Homo sapiens: one gene and its partners. The protein of the gene in region 2 interacts with the protein of the main gene of each other region in a pairwise test. Each region holds a gene or a part of one and is shown on either strand. Other genes may lie near its edges.

Region 1 (4,224 bases), about 42 Mb from region 2:
CTGAGCCCAGGAGGTGGCGGTTGCAGTGAGCCGAGATTGAGCTGCTGCACTCCAGCCTGGGTGACAGAGTGAGACCCTGTCTCAAGGCAGAAAAAAAAAGAAGATTCAGCAATGTTTTGGTTTGACTCTTCCCATGGTAGAGATGGGGCAATGAGTTGCAGAACAGAGAGATGAGGTGCCTTGAAGTCTTCTTTGCGGTTTGTAGACTAATATAGAATGTAGGGCACAGTCTACAAGGTTAACAGGAGAAACAGGGAAGGAACGAATCCTCTGCTAGGTGCAGCTGTTGGAGCTCTTTTGATGAAGGACTGGAGAGCTAGGAATTCTTGGTCCTCAGGAGGAGGAGGAAACTGCCTGGGAGACTTCTGGGATAGGCAGCCTCAAATGCAGCTTGGAGGTGATGATTCATGGTACACCATCTTGTACAGTTTTATCTTCCCAACAGGACCATGAGCTTGTTGAAGATAAATAATGTGCATTGTGTTTCTTTTGAATTCCCACAGGACTAGTCACAGGATGGACATGGTTGGCACTTCCTTAATATTACTTGATTGTATCAGAAAGAGGGGAGCCTCAATAGACATTTACTCAGCACTTACATATACCGGGCATTGCGAAAGTTTTCACATGTGAATATTCATTACAAACCCCATTTTACAGACATGAAAGTTGAGGCACAGAAAAGTTTCATGGCTTGCTCAAGGTCCCACAACTATGAGCAGGTCTGAGATTCAAACCCGAGTCTTTCTCCTCTCACAACCTCTCTTCCCAGGAGACAGAGCACTGGCTGGCCTTGAGAGTCACATTATATTGCAGTGGGCAGGGCACAGGCACACATACACTCCAGAAAACCATGTGTGACCTACACAATAGACACGGAAGCTTAAGAGCAGAATAAAGGGGCAATCAAAATGGGGTGGATTCCTAAGGAAGATGATTACAGAGCGCGACCTTCAAGGTTTGGAAAGACAGCTTGATGGGGCTTGGGGAACCAGGCAGTAGGTGCTGAGAAAATGCTTAGGGAATAGGAAGCACCCCAAGGAAACAGTGAAGTGTAGTGGCTTGTATTAACACAAGATGTTTGGACAGGACGGAGTTGGTCCCAGGCCTAAGAAAGCGGTTTAGAAATGAGGCAGTGTTTGCTGAGTCCTTTACAAGATGCATCATTAGCACATGACGGAAAGCAATTAACTTGCTTCTTACTCATATGCTGATCAAGTTGCAACTGGAAAGGAGTTTGCACGTTGTGGGGAGGGGGTGCCAGGGAACCAGCCAGTGGCCCTTACACCATTTCCCGAGGGATGCCGAGTGTGAGCTCAGGGTTGGCGGATGCCCAGGGAATGCCATCAGAAGGCCCTCTCCACTAGCAGTGCCCCGCCCCCACAGGATGCTCATAAAAGCCACGAGACCAGGGCTCTCCAGCCACCTGTCTTCTCCACTGCCTGTACCAGCCCACCTCAGGTGCCTTCTCGCCGGCCTTCCTCACCCACCATGTCTCGGCAGTCCTCCATCACCTTCCAGTCTGGCAGCCGCAGGGGCTTCAGCACCACCTCGGCCATCACCCCGGCAGCTGGCCGCTCCCGCTTCAGCTCTGTCTCTGTGGCCCGCTCTGCAGCAGGGAGTGGGGGCCTGGGAAGGATCAGCAGTGCTGGGGCCAGCTTTGGAAGCCGCAGCCTCTACAACCTGGGGGGTGCCAAGCGGGTCTCCATCAATGGGTGTGGCAGCAGCTGCCGAAGTGGCTTTGGTGGCAGGGCCAGCAACAGGTTTGGAGTCAACAGTGGATTTGGCTATGGGGGTGGAGTTGGAGGAGGCTTCAGTGGCCCCAGCTTCCCCGTGTGTCCCCCTGGAGGCATCCAAGAGGTCACTGTCAACCAGAGTCTCCTGACTCCTCTTCACCTGCAAATCGACCCCACCATCCAGCGGGTGCGGGCCGAGGAGCGCGAGCAGATCAAGACCCTCAACAATAAGTTCGCCTCCTTCATCGACAAGGTAAGCAGGGGCTTCATCCACCCCCTTGGGTTTGGGATCAAATAAACTCTTGGAAGGGCCATCCCATGGGGGGAGAGCAATAATGCAATGACCCCACTGTGGGAATGAGCACTGTTCAGCACGGGCTCCCAGGGGCTGAGACCCTTCCAAGTCAGGCCAGCTTGCCCCACAGGACCTGGTAGAAATTTCCTCTCTTTCGGAGCCACATGGGCTGGTTCAGTCAACACCAAGGGAAGAGTTTTGTTGATTCTCTACAGGAGAGTTGCTGCTCAGCAAACTACCCTAACCCAGAGTAGGTGGTGTTGAGAAACTTAACCCAAGAGCAGCTCCCCAACAGAAGCCTCTAGGCCCCACCACCCGAATCCTATGCAAGCCCTAGGGAACTTTGCGGTAGCTCCATGGACTGCCTCCTTTTGGGTTGGAGTTGTCAGTTACATTATTGTCAATGGGTGCCAAGTGAAAAAAATATCTTTTTCTTCTCTCCCTTATTAATAGGAGTGTCTAACTCTGCCTCTCCAACTTCTCAAGGTTTCATTCTCTCTTCTTCCCTCCAGGTGAGGTTCTTGGAGCAGCAGAACAAGGTCCTGGAGACCAAGTGGGCCCTCCTGCAGGAGCAGGGCTCCAGGACTGTGAGGCAGAACCTAGAGCCCCTCTTTGATTCCTATACCAGTGAGCTCCGACGGCAGCTGGAAAGCATCACCACCGAGAGGGGCAGGCTTGAAGCTGAACTGAGGAACATGCAGGATGTTGTGGAAGATTTCAAAGTCAGGTAAGTGGGAGACTGGCTTCTGGCCACACACAGCCATCTGAAGGCTCCTTTGTGTGAGGACCAGAGAGGTGCAAAGGAGCAAATGCCGATATCAGCCGGGAGCTTTGGAACTGCAGCCTTTATCCTGCAAGGTGGAGACAGCACTGTGTGGGGTAGCACAAGGACCTTCATCTTGTGTATTGCTATGAAGATCCTATTCCTATTTGTTCACATGACTGCAAAGGGATATCAACATCATCCGACAAAATATTGCTACTCACTCTAGAAATCATAATGTAATTTCACAGTCAGCATATTGTTTAATTCCATTGGACATGGGCTCAATTATTGAGATGGTTTGCATTTCCAGGATGGCATTCACTGTAGAGTGAAGAGAGGTAACAAGGAAGAGTTTAAAGGAGGGCAATCTGACTTTTCTTGTGGGGGGAAACTTTTGACTGCACATCATCCAGGCTGCAGTAGGTGAGGTATCCAGTGGAAAGGGATTTGGTCCAGACTAACCCATTAGCCAGCTTGCCCTTATTTCTAAGCTTGAGCTACCCCTAGTTACAAAAAGCATATTTCTCAGGGGCCACCCTGAGGTTCAGTGAAAATATATCAAAATCTACCCGAAACAGCCTGCTGAACAGATAAAGTTTACTCCACGATTTCGGTAGACACTTGAGGTGGAAAAACATTTTAGATTAGCATTGCATATCTATCAAAAGATGGAGTTGCATAAGTATATTTTTGTATTCCTTTAAGTTCCATGCTCACCTTCTACTCTTAGAAAAGTTTATTAAAAACTAGCAGAAGAAATTATCCCCCTTTTATGGAGGGAGAAATAGAGGTTAAATGAATCACCCAAAGTCATGCCCAGGTCAGCAGAAGAGCTGGAAATGATTTGAGGGCTCTTAACTCTTGCTACACCAGCCTGGAAAGAGTTCAATGCAGACTTGCTCAACAGCACACCCCCCGCTCTGTCCTTATAGGTACGAAGATGAAATTAACAAGCGCACAGCTGCTGAGAATGAATTTGTAGCCCTGAAAAAGGTGAGTGGGGATGTTTCTCTCAAAGGAGAAGGTTTAAAATGGAATCTGGAGTGTGGGGTAACCTGACCTCTGACCCTTGGGCCACCCAAGAAATGTCACATCAACCTTGAGAATATCTGCAGAGTTCAAACCTCCCAACATGTTCCCTCTACGTTGATGGCCCCATTAGCCCTACTTGGGTTTCTGTGAGCTCAGGGAATTCAAGCCCCCAGTTCTCCGTAATTACCCATCCCCAACCCCAAATCACCCAGACCCAGAGTTTTCTAAAATCCAAACTAGATGGGCTGGGGAGAAATCTGCTCAGCTTCTTTTGGACTAGATACTTGGGGCTGCAGACTCAAAGGAGCATCCTGCGCTGTCATTCCAGGACGTAGATGCTGCCTATATGAACAAGGTGGAGCTGGAAGCCAAGGTCAAATCTCTGCCCGAGGAGA
Region 2 (3,458 bases):
TGAATGTCTTTTTTTTTTTTTTTTTTTTTTTTGCATTTAGCCCATTTTCTTCAAGTCTGTGTTGAATTTAAAAAAGTACATCTAAGGCTATATTGTAAAGAAGAAGGCAATTTATAGATTGAAAGAGTTTCCATTTAAATTAGATACAGTGTTTGCATCCATAGGAATGAGAAAGTTCAGAGAACTAACCTTGACGTGAACTACACTTGCATTTATTGATTTATTGATTTAGGGACAGAGTCTCGCTCTGTTACCCAAGCTGGAGTGCAGTGGCTTGATCTCAGCTCACTGCAACCTCTGCCTCCCAGGCTCAAGCGATTCTCCTGCCTCAGTATACTTGCATTTATTACAGTTCACCTTATAGATCTTGTGATGACACAAGTTAACCACTTGTGGGTATTTGGATCTCAGTGTTGCAAAGGCAGAATACAGTGTTTGAAAGACAGGTAATGATGAGAAGAGGGAAAAAATGTATGTGAAAGGAAAGGGCAAGAGATGAAGAAAAGCAGTGTAACAAGGATAAGTGATTCTGTCTCCTCTACTTTTGGAATCAATTAAATTTTTCTATATTCCTCTATTTGGATATTCAGGGTTTGTAACTCATTTCTTTCTGAGTTGAGGGGTGACATAGGTGGGCATTATCTCATTTTATTATGATTAATTTTTAGGCTTATGTGCACAAGAGTGTAATGGAAGAACTGAAGAGAATTATTGATGACAGTGAAATTACAAAAGAAGATGATGCTTTGTGGCCTCCCCCTGATAGGGTTGGCCGACAGGTTTGTATTTAGTGATTCTTTAAGTGTATAAATATTAAAAATTGATAATACTATTTTGTTTCCCGTTATTTATTTGGAATGAGTCTAAGTTGATTCTTTGGCTTTCTATTTAATAGGCACCTGGTAAATTCTCTTTAATTTTATCTCTTAGTTCTGTTTTTCTGTGCTACCTCCTAGTAGTGAAGGAGTCAGTGCATAGCTCTAAATTTAGACATCTTTCTCTGTAGTCACCCCAGCCAACGTTAGGATGTTTTCACAATGCAGTGTTATGAATAATTTCTGTTGTGTGTTAATCACTTTTATTAAGAATATGACTATGTAAAATTTATTTTTGCCAAATCATAACTTCTAAAATTCTTACTTGCATCCCTATACCCCAGAGAGAAACTTGATTGGTGGTTTCTTTGTTAAAACTGATGATTGCATTTCCCTCTCATATTCCTTCAGAATAAATGATGTTTCTCAGGCTTCTGAAGAACTCTGAAGGCCTAATTTCACTCTGTAAAAAGAAAGTTTGGTTTCTGAATTGGGTCTTTTCAACTCTTGGAGAAATTCCTTCAACAACCCCTGGAAGGAAGAAACATTTAATTTCACTTTTGTATATCCCTGAGGATTGTACTTTGTATCACCTTCTTTGAATAGAAGAAAATGTGGAGAAATCTAACACATGCTGACACTCTGTAGGAGTAACTTAAGTCTTCTGCTTAAAGAAGCATTATTTAGAAAAGCAAAGGTAATAGTTAACAGTATTTATTTTAAGCATCGTATCACTTTTAAAAAGTAAATTTAGGCCTCAGTTTGTTTTATGCAGATACACATATGTACTAAAAAGCAAACCACAGCAGCTAACCTTTTATATCATTTAGACTCAGGGAGAGCCTAGTATTTTATCTATTCACTTAAGGATGTGTTCATGGGTTTTGGTTAGTGGGGAGGAGTAGGCATGCTTCAGAAATTGCCTTTTGTATCAAGTCAAAGGTTTTATGGCTGTTAGAGCATCTTAGCTAATTCTCCATTCTGTGTGTGTCATAAACTGCATAATTAGGCCTCTGATTAAATAAATAGCTAGGATTGTCTTCAATAGTGTCTGTTAACTTGAAGATTCATTACAGATATAGCTTTTTAATTATTGGTTTTAGGCCTGCAGATAAACAATATAGGGAAAAATCTATACAGTAATTACAGCACACTAGGAACATCTACATTAGGTTGGTTTTTTTTTTTTTTTTTTACTAGTTCTTAATTTTAGTTATTTTGTGGAGTATTAGTTTTGAAGTCTTACCATCTTGGGATCAAATATAAGTACCATCATTATTAGTGGTTATAAATATCAACAAGTATTTTCTTCTGCTCTATGAGTTTTGGATTACACATTTGTAAAATAGGTTAGTAAGGTTATTTTCAAGATTACAGAGAGTACAAAGTCCCTACCACTAGGGCCTGACATACAGTAGGTGCTAAAGTGGTGGTGGTTATTAATATTACACATTTTATTTGTAGAATCTTCCAGAAAGAAAAAATGTGTATTTATCATATTAAAAATGGTCTTATACTCCAATCATTTTTACAACATGTGCTTCAAAGTGATGTCTTTAGTTTTTACTGACATTGTAAGAAATATTTCTTTGTCATTTTGTTTCATAGTGTCTTCTTTATGTCTCTGGAAAGCAATTCTTTGTTGGTCCTAAACTTGGGGGTAGTGCGCGTGAGCAGTCTTTATTTTAAGGATATAGTTTATATCTAAGAAACCATGTTTCTTTCCCCCTCGCCCCCCACTCCCTCTGTTGGCTGCTAGAAAACTTGCAACTAAAATTGGGATCTGCTTGTAGCAAGAATACAGATACCTCTGGGATAGATTTTTATATTAACTACATTTTTCTGCTATATTTTTTAGGAGCTTGAAATTGTAATTGGAGATGAGCACATATCTTTTACCACATCAAAAATAGGTTCTCTTATTGATGTAAATCAGTCAAAGTAAGTATGTTAAAGCATTTTGGCGAAGTTTTCATTATTACAGAGGCTCATTTTAGAACTATAGTCAGTTTGCTAGCCAAGATAATTTCAGTGGCATCCTATCAGTTTATTATGCAGATGTAATCCTGATTTTTATGTCATTAAAGGCTTATTATCTTGTCTCTCAGTAGAAGTTAGCAGAGTATTTCATTGATTGTCCAAAAACTTTTAATCCAACAGCTGTATATAATAATGCCCAAGTTGTATTAGCTACTTTGTATAAAAATGTGGATACAGTATCAGCAAATCCAAAGGAAAGAAATCCTTATTGGATTATGTCAGCCTCATTAGGCCTATATCATCTCACTGTCCTTCTTGGGCTCAATACTTGGGAAAAAGATGGAAAAAATCCATTATGGCCTAAGTATGCTTTAGCTATCGATGTCTTCCCAAGATCTGTCTCTCCTCTGCCCCAGGGTTTTGTAGCACATCCCATTTTCTTGGTCTGATCCTAGCCACTTATTTTTATTTGTGCCCATTCCCCTCAAAGTGTCCCCATAGTGCTCTTACTTTTTTCTGTCACCCTGAATTGTAATAACCTATTTGTCTGCTTTACTGGTTTGAATGTAAGCTCCTTGAGAACCTTGCTGTATCCACAGAGTTAGCATAGTGCCCTGCACATAATAGATGCTTTCAATAAATATTTGTTAGTGGAAAGGAGAA
Region 3 (3,500 bases), on a different chromosome or scaffold from region 2:
TATAGTATTCCATAATTCAAACTTGTAAGCCTTAAGTACAAAGATATCTGAATTATACATAAGTCAAAGTTCATTAAGGTGTTCCCCTTACCCCAATTAGTCTAAATTAGTACACTTGCAAAGAAATCTGAATTAAATGTCAGTCAATAAAATTCACAAAGCCAGAAGCAGTTTAGTGCTCACAAGTTTATATTTTTAGGTTTGAATAAAGATTCTTGTGTATTTTCTAAATACACAGACAAAACAGTTCCGGAAGTTTACATACATGTCTTAGGACACTTATATTAGGTAGGTAATTTACATTTTAAAAAGTTGGTCTTCGTAAAAGATCTTCCCAAAGAGCTTTTACAAACAGCAGGCGGAAGTGTTCTTTTGTTTACAGTGTTCAAAATGCCAATGCTCCCACTAAATAATGGCCTCAACCATCTCTCCTCAACCCAAAATATTGTTCTCAATAGCTAGTGTACTCCAAATTTAAGTACCCAATGTCATAAAATTTAGGGCTAGAAAACATCTTTTGAAGTGTGCTTATCCCTAACACATTTTAAACTATCTAGAATTCTTTAACTTCAGTTGAAAGCAGAGATACAGCAGGAAAAAAAAAAAAACTTTCCATTTTAAGTCCTAAAGTGACTAAACACCTGTTAGTTCTAAGTGTGGATATTATGTACCATAGTTAAGTTTAAGGATCTGGGTGACTGAACGGCACAAAAACTGGGGTTTCTATCTAGTTCTTCAGATAAAAACCATTCTTTTATAAAATTAAAATGCCACAGCCAGTTAAGAGCATGTGCTACACTGATGTGTCTTAATATAGTCAAAGTGACAAAACAACTGCTTTATGAAGAAAGAGTAGTAAGGAAATTTATTGGGGGGAGGAAAGACACTCAAAATTCTAAACACAGCTGTCTTATAGGAAAAATATAATCCATAGACTCCATTAAGAGCTGAAATTCTACAAGAGTTGTTTAATGAGGCAGCAATAGAGCCTCCCTGAAAGAGTATGGGCTTCAGAATCAGACGTGGTCAAATTCGAGCTCTGTCACAGCTGTGTTAAATTAGCCAAGTTTCTGAATTTCTCTGAGCCTTTCCTCATCTATAAAATGGAGACAATTAGCACCTACCTTATAGAGGATTAAGGTAAAATCATGTATACAGCACAACGGCAAGTGTGGGCACTCAAAAAAAAAATTGGTAGTTTTTTTAATCGTTTTTCAGAAAAATGAATCTAAACCCTTCATGCTATGTTCAGAAAATCCTAAAAAATATAAATAAAGCTTACTAAAGTTTTAAAAATTAAGATTTTTAAACCTATTTTCCATCACACTTTCCCCCGTATGATACTACTACAGTGATATTCAGGCCGTTTACACCATTTTGTATTAATATAAATGCCCAAGTCCTAATCCTTTCATTTCCTATTTTCTCCTTCCTTTCCCCCATCTTTTCTTATTTCTTTTTCCTCTTGGTTCTTATCTATTATTAAACAACTTTAAGATGTGTTATGCACCTATTATGTACCAGTGTTCTAAGCACTTTACATGAATTAACGCATTTAGCTCACTCTTCTCCATTAGGATAGCTGTACCTAACCCAGCTAGTGTGTTTTCCCCAATTTCAAAGCTACTCATTACTGTTCAGTTTCCCTTTCCTATAACGTTTCTTCTTTTTTAAACTCTTAATTGCTAGTGTGCTAAATTTAGCAAAATATCTAGTAAATAAGAAAAATGAACAGGGGTCCATATGGAAGTATCTGTCTCTGAGAACTCTAATAATGCACAATCTTGATTTATGAGACGGTCTGTAACTACAGAGTGAATATGAAAGAAAGTTTATACTCTTCCCCTTCATTAAAAGCTCTAAAATACTTTTTCATTTAAAATATAAATTACAAGAGACAACTTCGCCAAATGTGTAACATAATTCTGCCAGAGTTCCACAGACAAAATTATGAGTATTTCATTGTTACCTCTGAGACCAATCATAAGTTCTTAGTATCTATCAACTTCCTGAAATTTTACTGTAAGTCAGAAAAAGAATACACTTAAAAAAATAGAAATGTCCAGTAGTATACCTTAGTACTAAAACTATTTTTTTAAAAGATCTAGATGGGAAAAGGCAGTCCCTCGAGATCATGAAACAAAATAAGTTAGGCAGTCAGCAAGTAGAAAAATCTGTCAATTCTGTTTCCGGTAAAATGTTTACTTCAAAGAAATTTTTATATAGGCTGAGGCTAATATATTCAAGAGTATAAACACTTTTCCTTTGGATTACCTAAAAACAAACTTTTAAAGTATCATATTTCAATTGACTAAAAATATAGCCAAATCTGTCACAACACAACATAAAGTAATGGACAATTATAGAATATTTTAAATTAACAGTAACAAGCCATCTACATCAAACCTTATTTCCAACTAAAACCAAACAAAAGCACAACAATCCCGTAGTGTACCAAGTGTGTATTTCAATTTACTGTATGCAATCTAACAAAAATTTGGTCATAATTTACCAGATATACATAAATGATTTAAGTAGTAAAAGAAAATTCAGCTTCAAGAGAGTAAGTTCATATCTTGAGGAAAAGTAAAAGTACATTAAGAATGTAAAGCCAAGTCCAGTTTCTATGCAATAAGTGAACTGTAGTCTAATAAAGCAGATTTAGGTGATTTTTAGATATATATCTTTGTTCTTTAATATATATTTATATATAGACAGATCTACCAATTGTAAACTAGTTTATTTAAAGGAAGGGGATAAATGGGATGAAAGAAATCTTTATACTATACTTACATATTCACAAAGAACATTTTACGTTTAAAATACTTTTTCATTCATAGTATCTTTGCCCAACTAATTTCTACCAGAAATACATTTTACTCATTTGTCTAGAACATTAAGAAGTACTCATCTGTTTTAAACAAAAATCAAACCGAAACTATTCTTATCTGTCAGGTTTACAGTTATGTAGAAACTACAATATAGATGACAAAAGATGCATCTAACCATGTAACTGTAATTTATCTTTGATTTATCCAAGCAGAAACATCATTGTCTAACAATAAACCATTATTCTACTGAAATCAGAGACAATGATAAAGCTTGTCTCTTAAAAAACATCAACTTTTCAACTTTGATCAGATGGAGCACCAAAGGGATTATATCTGTCAAAGCATCTTTGCAATTTTTTCCACATAACTAGCATAATTTAGTTACCTGATATAAAATAGGAAAATATACTCAATTTTTATTTAAAAGAAAGCTGAAAATATGACATCCCTCAATCTTATATAATATACAATATGCTAATAAATGCCATACATGTTAACAATACGTGAAATGCTGCTGAGAGTTCCACAATCAGCTAATTCATGTCACCAGGCTAAGTAAATCTGACAATTTCACCTCAATATGTCACCCTTTGTACCCTGAAGAATTTATAGAATAATAAAGCTTCTCAGAATTTTATTTGTAAGATTTTTGAGACTGTTGAATCATGG
Region 4 (3,500 bases), on a different chromosome or scaffold from region 2:
TACCATTTGTGAAGAAAGGTGTACTATATATCTTTCCAGAATATTCTATGCATATAAATATTCATATATATGCTTACATATAGTAAGCATTTGCTTCTAGTGAGGGGGACTTGGTAGCTGGGAGACACAGGAGTAAGAACAGTTTTTTTTTTTAACTTTATAAATTGTGGACTACATGAGTGTATTCCCCCATAAAATAATTTTCCAATGATTATAGTCATGTGAAGTTATGAGATTATAACTTTAATTCAACATTGTAGTAGGTGGATTACGTTCATAACTCCTACTTTTCACCCTTCCCTGGGACCACATGCTTAGGAAGGCTCTTCCTGTGCTGATCCTAGGCTTGGCTAGGAGGCTTGCTTTGGCCTGTGGGACTAGATGCAAATGTGACAATATCAGAGACTTGAAAGCATGCCTGTGTGTCCACTCCCTCTCAGACTCCTGCCACCTCCCTGAGAACACACCCAGGTGAGATGTGAGTCAGGAGAAGAAGATCAAATTGGCCCAGCTGAGCCCTCCTGGTCCAGGTCCAGACCAAGCCTGGTCCAGACCAACAGAACCAGCAGCTGACCTCCAGATGCATGAGAAATAGTAAATGGATAAATGAGGGCTGGATGGTTTGTTACACAGCAAGAGCTGACTGATACAAGCATTAAAGTCAGGTCTTTGAGTTAGGGGGAAAAATGGTGGAGATGGGTAGGTGTTTCCTCATACTGAAAAAAAGACTAGGCCCACTCTAAAAATCTTTTGTAGAGGAGAAGCACTCCCTTCTTCTAGAATAACTTTCAGCTCTAGATTTCTCCTGCTCATTTTCTCTAAGCACTATTTCTATCTTAGTGAATCCAGATTTCTTCTTCAGACTCTGCTCCTTTAGTAAATATGCCAACTTGGCCAAAGAAACCAAACCTTTTATTCACTTTAATTCAATTAAATTTACTGAGCAAGGGCTTACTCAATAAAATCAACAATGAAAAGGCCAGCTGGCCAGGCACCGTAGCTCAGGCCTGTAGTCCCAGCACTTTGGGATGCCAAGGCAGGCAGATCGCCTGATGTTAGGAGTTCGAGACAGCCTGGCCAACATGGTGAAACCCTGCCTCTACTAAAAATACAAAAATTAGGCTGGGCGCGGTGGCTCATGCCTGTAATCCCAGCACTTTGGGAGGCCGAGGCGGGTGGATAACGAAGTCAGGAGATCGAGACCATCCTAGCCAACATGGTGAAACCCCGCCTCTACTAAAATACAAAAAAACTAGTCCGGGTGTGGTGGCCGGGCGCCTGTAGTCCCAGCTACTCGGGAGGCTGAGGTAGGGGAATCACTTGAACCCGGGAGGCGGAGGTTGCAGTGAGCCGAGATTGCATCACTGCACTCCAGCCTGGGCGACAGAGCAAGACTCCGTCTCAGAAAAAAAAAAAAAAAAAAATTAGCCAGACTCCTGTAATTTTAACTACTCGGGAGGTTGAGGCAGGAGAATCACTTGTACCCGGGAGGCAGAAGTTTCAGTGAGCCGAGATCGCTCCACTGCACTCTAGCCTGGGTGACAGAGAGAGACACTGTCTCAAAGAAAAAAAGAAAGAAATTAAAGGCCAGCCATAGGTGTTTCTGCAGGTCTACTTGCCCGTGCCCCATTTATAATTTTGCACCAGGAAGACCGCAGGGGAGTCTGGCAGATGTGAGGTACAGTCTTAGCCCTGTGTCTTCCCCACTGTGTGCCCTCAGGCAAGTTAACAAGCTTCTCTGAGCCTCGGTTTCCTCACAGGAAGCGTCGGGGATAACACAGTATCTCCCCCATAGCATTGTGAGGTTGGAAAGGAGGCCCTCAGCTCTTAATCTTCTGCTGGTCCACGCGGGTTTCTGCCAGGGCACCCCTGTTGACAGGTTTCTCCTCCCTGTGAGAGCCCAGGTGTTGAGTCAGGCGTGGGAGCTGGGCAAAGGCGTCCCGAACTGTCTGCATGCGTCCTCTGGTGTCGGATGAGCGCGGAGGAGAAGCTGAAGGCCTTCCCGCAGCCGCTGCACTCGTAGGGCTTCTCCCCGGTGTGCACGATGTGGTGCTGGATCAGGTAGGAGCGGTTGCTGAAGGCCTTGCCGCACTCGGGGCAGGTGTAGGGCCGCTCGCCCGTGTGCGTGCGCTGGTGCAGGGCGAGCGAGGAGCCCTGGCTGAAAGCTTTGCCGCACTCGCCGCACTTGTAGGGCCGCTCTCCGGTGTGGATCTTCTGGTGCTCTATAAGCGAGGACACGTGGCTGAAGGCGGCCCCGCATTGCAGGCACCTGTAGGGCCGCTCACCGGTGTGCACGAGGCGGTGCTGGAGGAGGTGGGAGCGGTTGCTGAAGCGCTTGCCGCAGTCGTGGCAGGGGTAAGGCCGCTCTCCGGTGTGCGTGCGCTGGTGCTGCGTCAGGTGCGACACCTGGGTGAAGGCCTTGGCGCACTGGCCGCACGCGTAGGGCTTCTCGCCTGTGTGGATGCGCCGGTGCTCGGCCAGAGAGGCGCTCTGGCTGAAGAGCGCGCCGCAGTCCTGGCACGTGTAGGGCTTCTCGCCCGTGTGCACGCGCCGGTGCTGGGTCAGGTGCGCGATCTGCGCGAAGGCCTTGGCGCACTGGCCGCAGCGGTAGGGCTTCTCCTCCGTGTGGATGCGCTGGTGGCGGATGAGCGCTGAGGAGAAGCGGAAGGCCTTGGCGCACGCGGAGCACTCGTAGGGCTTCTCACCGGTGTGGATGCGCTGGTGCTCTATCAGGGACGAGCGGTTGCGGAACGCCTTGGCGCACTGGGCGCACGCGTAGGGCCGCTCGCCCGTGTGCACGCGCCGGTGCTGGGTCAGGTGCGTGACGCGCGTGAAGGCCTTGCCGCAGTCGGCGCAGCGGTGCGGCTTCTCGCCCGTGTGCGTGCGCCAGTGGGACGCCAGGTACGAGCCCTGGCTGAAGGCCTTGCCGCACTCGTGGCAGGCGTAGGGCTTCTCGCCCGTGTGCGTGCGCTGGTGCAGGGTCAGGTGCACGCTCTGGCTGAAGGCCTTGCCGCACTCGGGGCACGCAAATGGCTTCTCCCCGGTGTGGATTCTCTGGTGTAAGATGAACGCTGAACAGTAGCTGAAGGCCTTCCCGCAGTCCCCGCATTTCCACGGCTTCTTGGGGCCTCCACCTCTCTCCCGCTGGCGGCTGTCAGGATGCCTCTCCTTCGGGCTCTCCCCAGGCGCGCTGCACCTCCGGGAACTGCTGTCGTCGGGGACACTGGCTTGGGTAGCAGCAGGGCTCGATATGGTTCTTGGGATTCGGCTGAATTCATCGCGTTCCTGCATGCTGTCCCCAGCAGGGTCTCCCTTGCAGGCCACGGCCTCTGGCTCTGGACAGCTTTCCTGGTTTTCCTGCAGGTCCTCAACCTGGCCCTCGTGTTTCCAGTTTCCTTCCAACTCTGCGCCCTGGAGGGCGACGCTCAAGAGTCCCTCCATCCTCGATCCCTGGGCTGCTGTCTTGATCTCACATCTTTTCTCTGGGTCTGAAAAGAAAA

Evidence for each region. The genes of interacting proteins can lie anywhere in the genome.
Region 1: the proteins of MAGOHB (region 2) and KRT75 interact in binary tests that used the Homo sapiens proteins (3 or more experiments, as listed by UniProt).
Region 3: the proteins of MAGOHB (region 2) and ZBTB10 interact in binary tests that used the Homo sapiens proteins (3 or more experiments, as listed by UniProt).
Region 4: the proteins of MAGOHB (region 2) and ZNF835 interact in binary tests that used the Homo sapiens proteins (3 or more experiments, as listed by UniProt).

The regions. Positions count from the first base shown.
Region 1 is NC_000012.12:52,431,572-52,435,795, reverse strand, and holds the start of KRT75 (keratin, type II cytoskeletal 75), read left to right. Parts: upstream 1-1,424; 5' UTR 1,425-1,491; coding exon 1,492-1,989; intron 1,990-2,543; coding exon 2,544-2,758; intron 2,759-3,729; coding exon 3,730-3,790; intron 3,791-4,157; coding exon 4,158-4,224.
Region 2 is NC_000012.12:10,607,152-10,610,609, reverse strand, and holds part of MAGOHB (protein mago nashi homolog 2), read left to right. Parts: intron 1-668; coding exon 669-779; intron 780-1,226; exon of another isoform or gene 1,227-1,512; intron 1,513-2,673; coding exon 2,674-2,756; intron 2,757-3,458. UniProt on the Homo sapiens protein: Required for pre-mRNA splicing as component of the spliceosome. Plays a redundant role with MAGOH in the exon junction complex and in the nonsense-mediated decay (NMD) pathway.
Region 3 is NC_000008.11:80,520,726-80,524,225, reverse strand, and holds part of ZBTB10 (zinc finger and BTB domain-containing protein 10), read right to left. Parts: 3' UTR 1-3,500. UniProt on the Homo sapiens protein: May be involved in transcriptional regulation.
Region 4 is NC_000019.10:56,661,758-56,665,257, forward strand, and holds the end of ZNF835 (zinc finger protein 835), read right to left. Parts: intron 3,489-3,500; 5' UTR 3,442-3,488; coding exon 1,828-3,441; 3' UTR 223-1,827; downstream 1-222. UniProt on the Homo sapiens protein: May be involved in transcriptional regulation.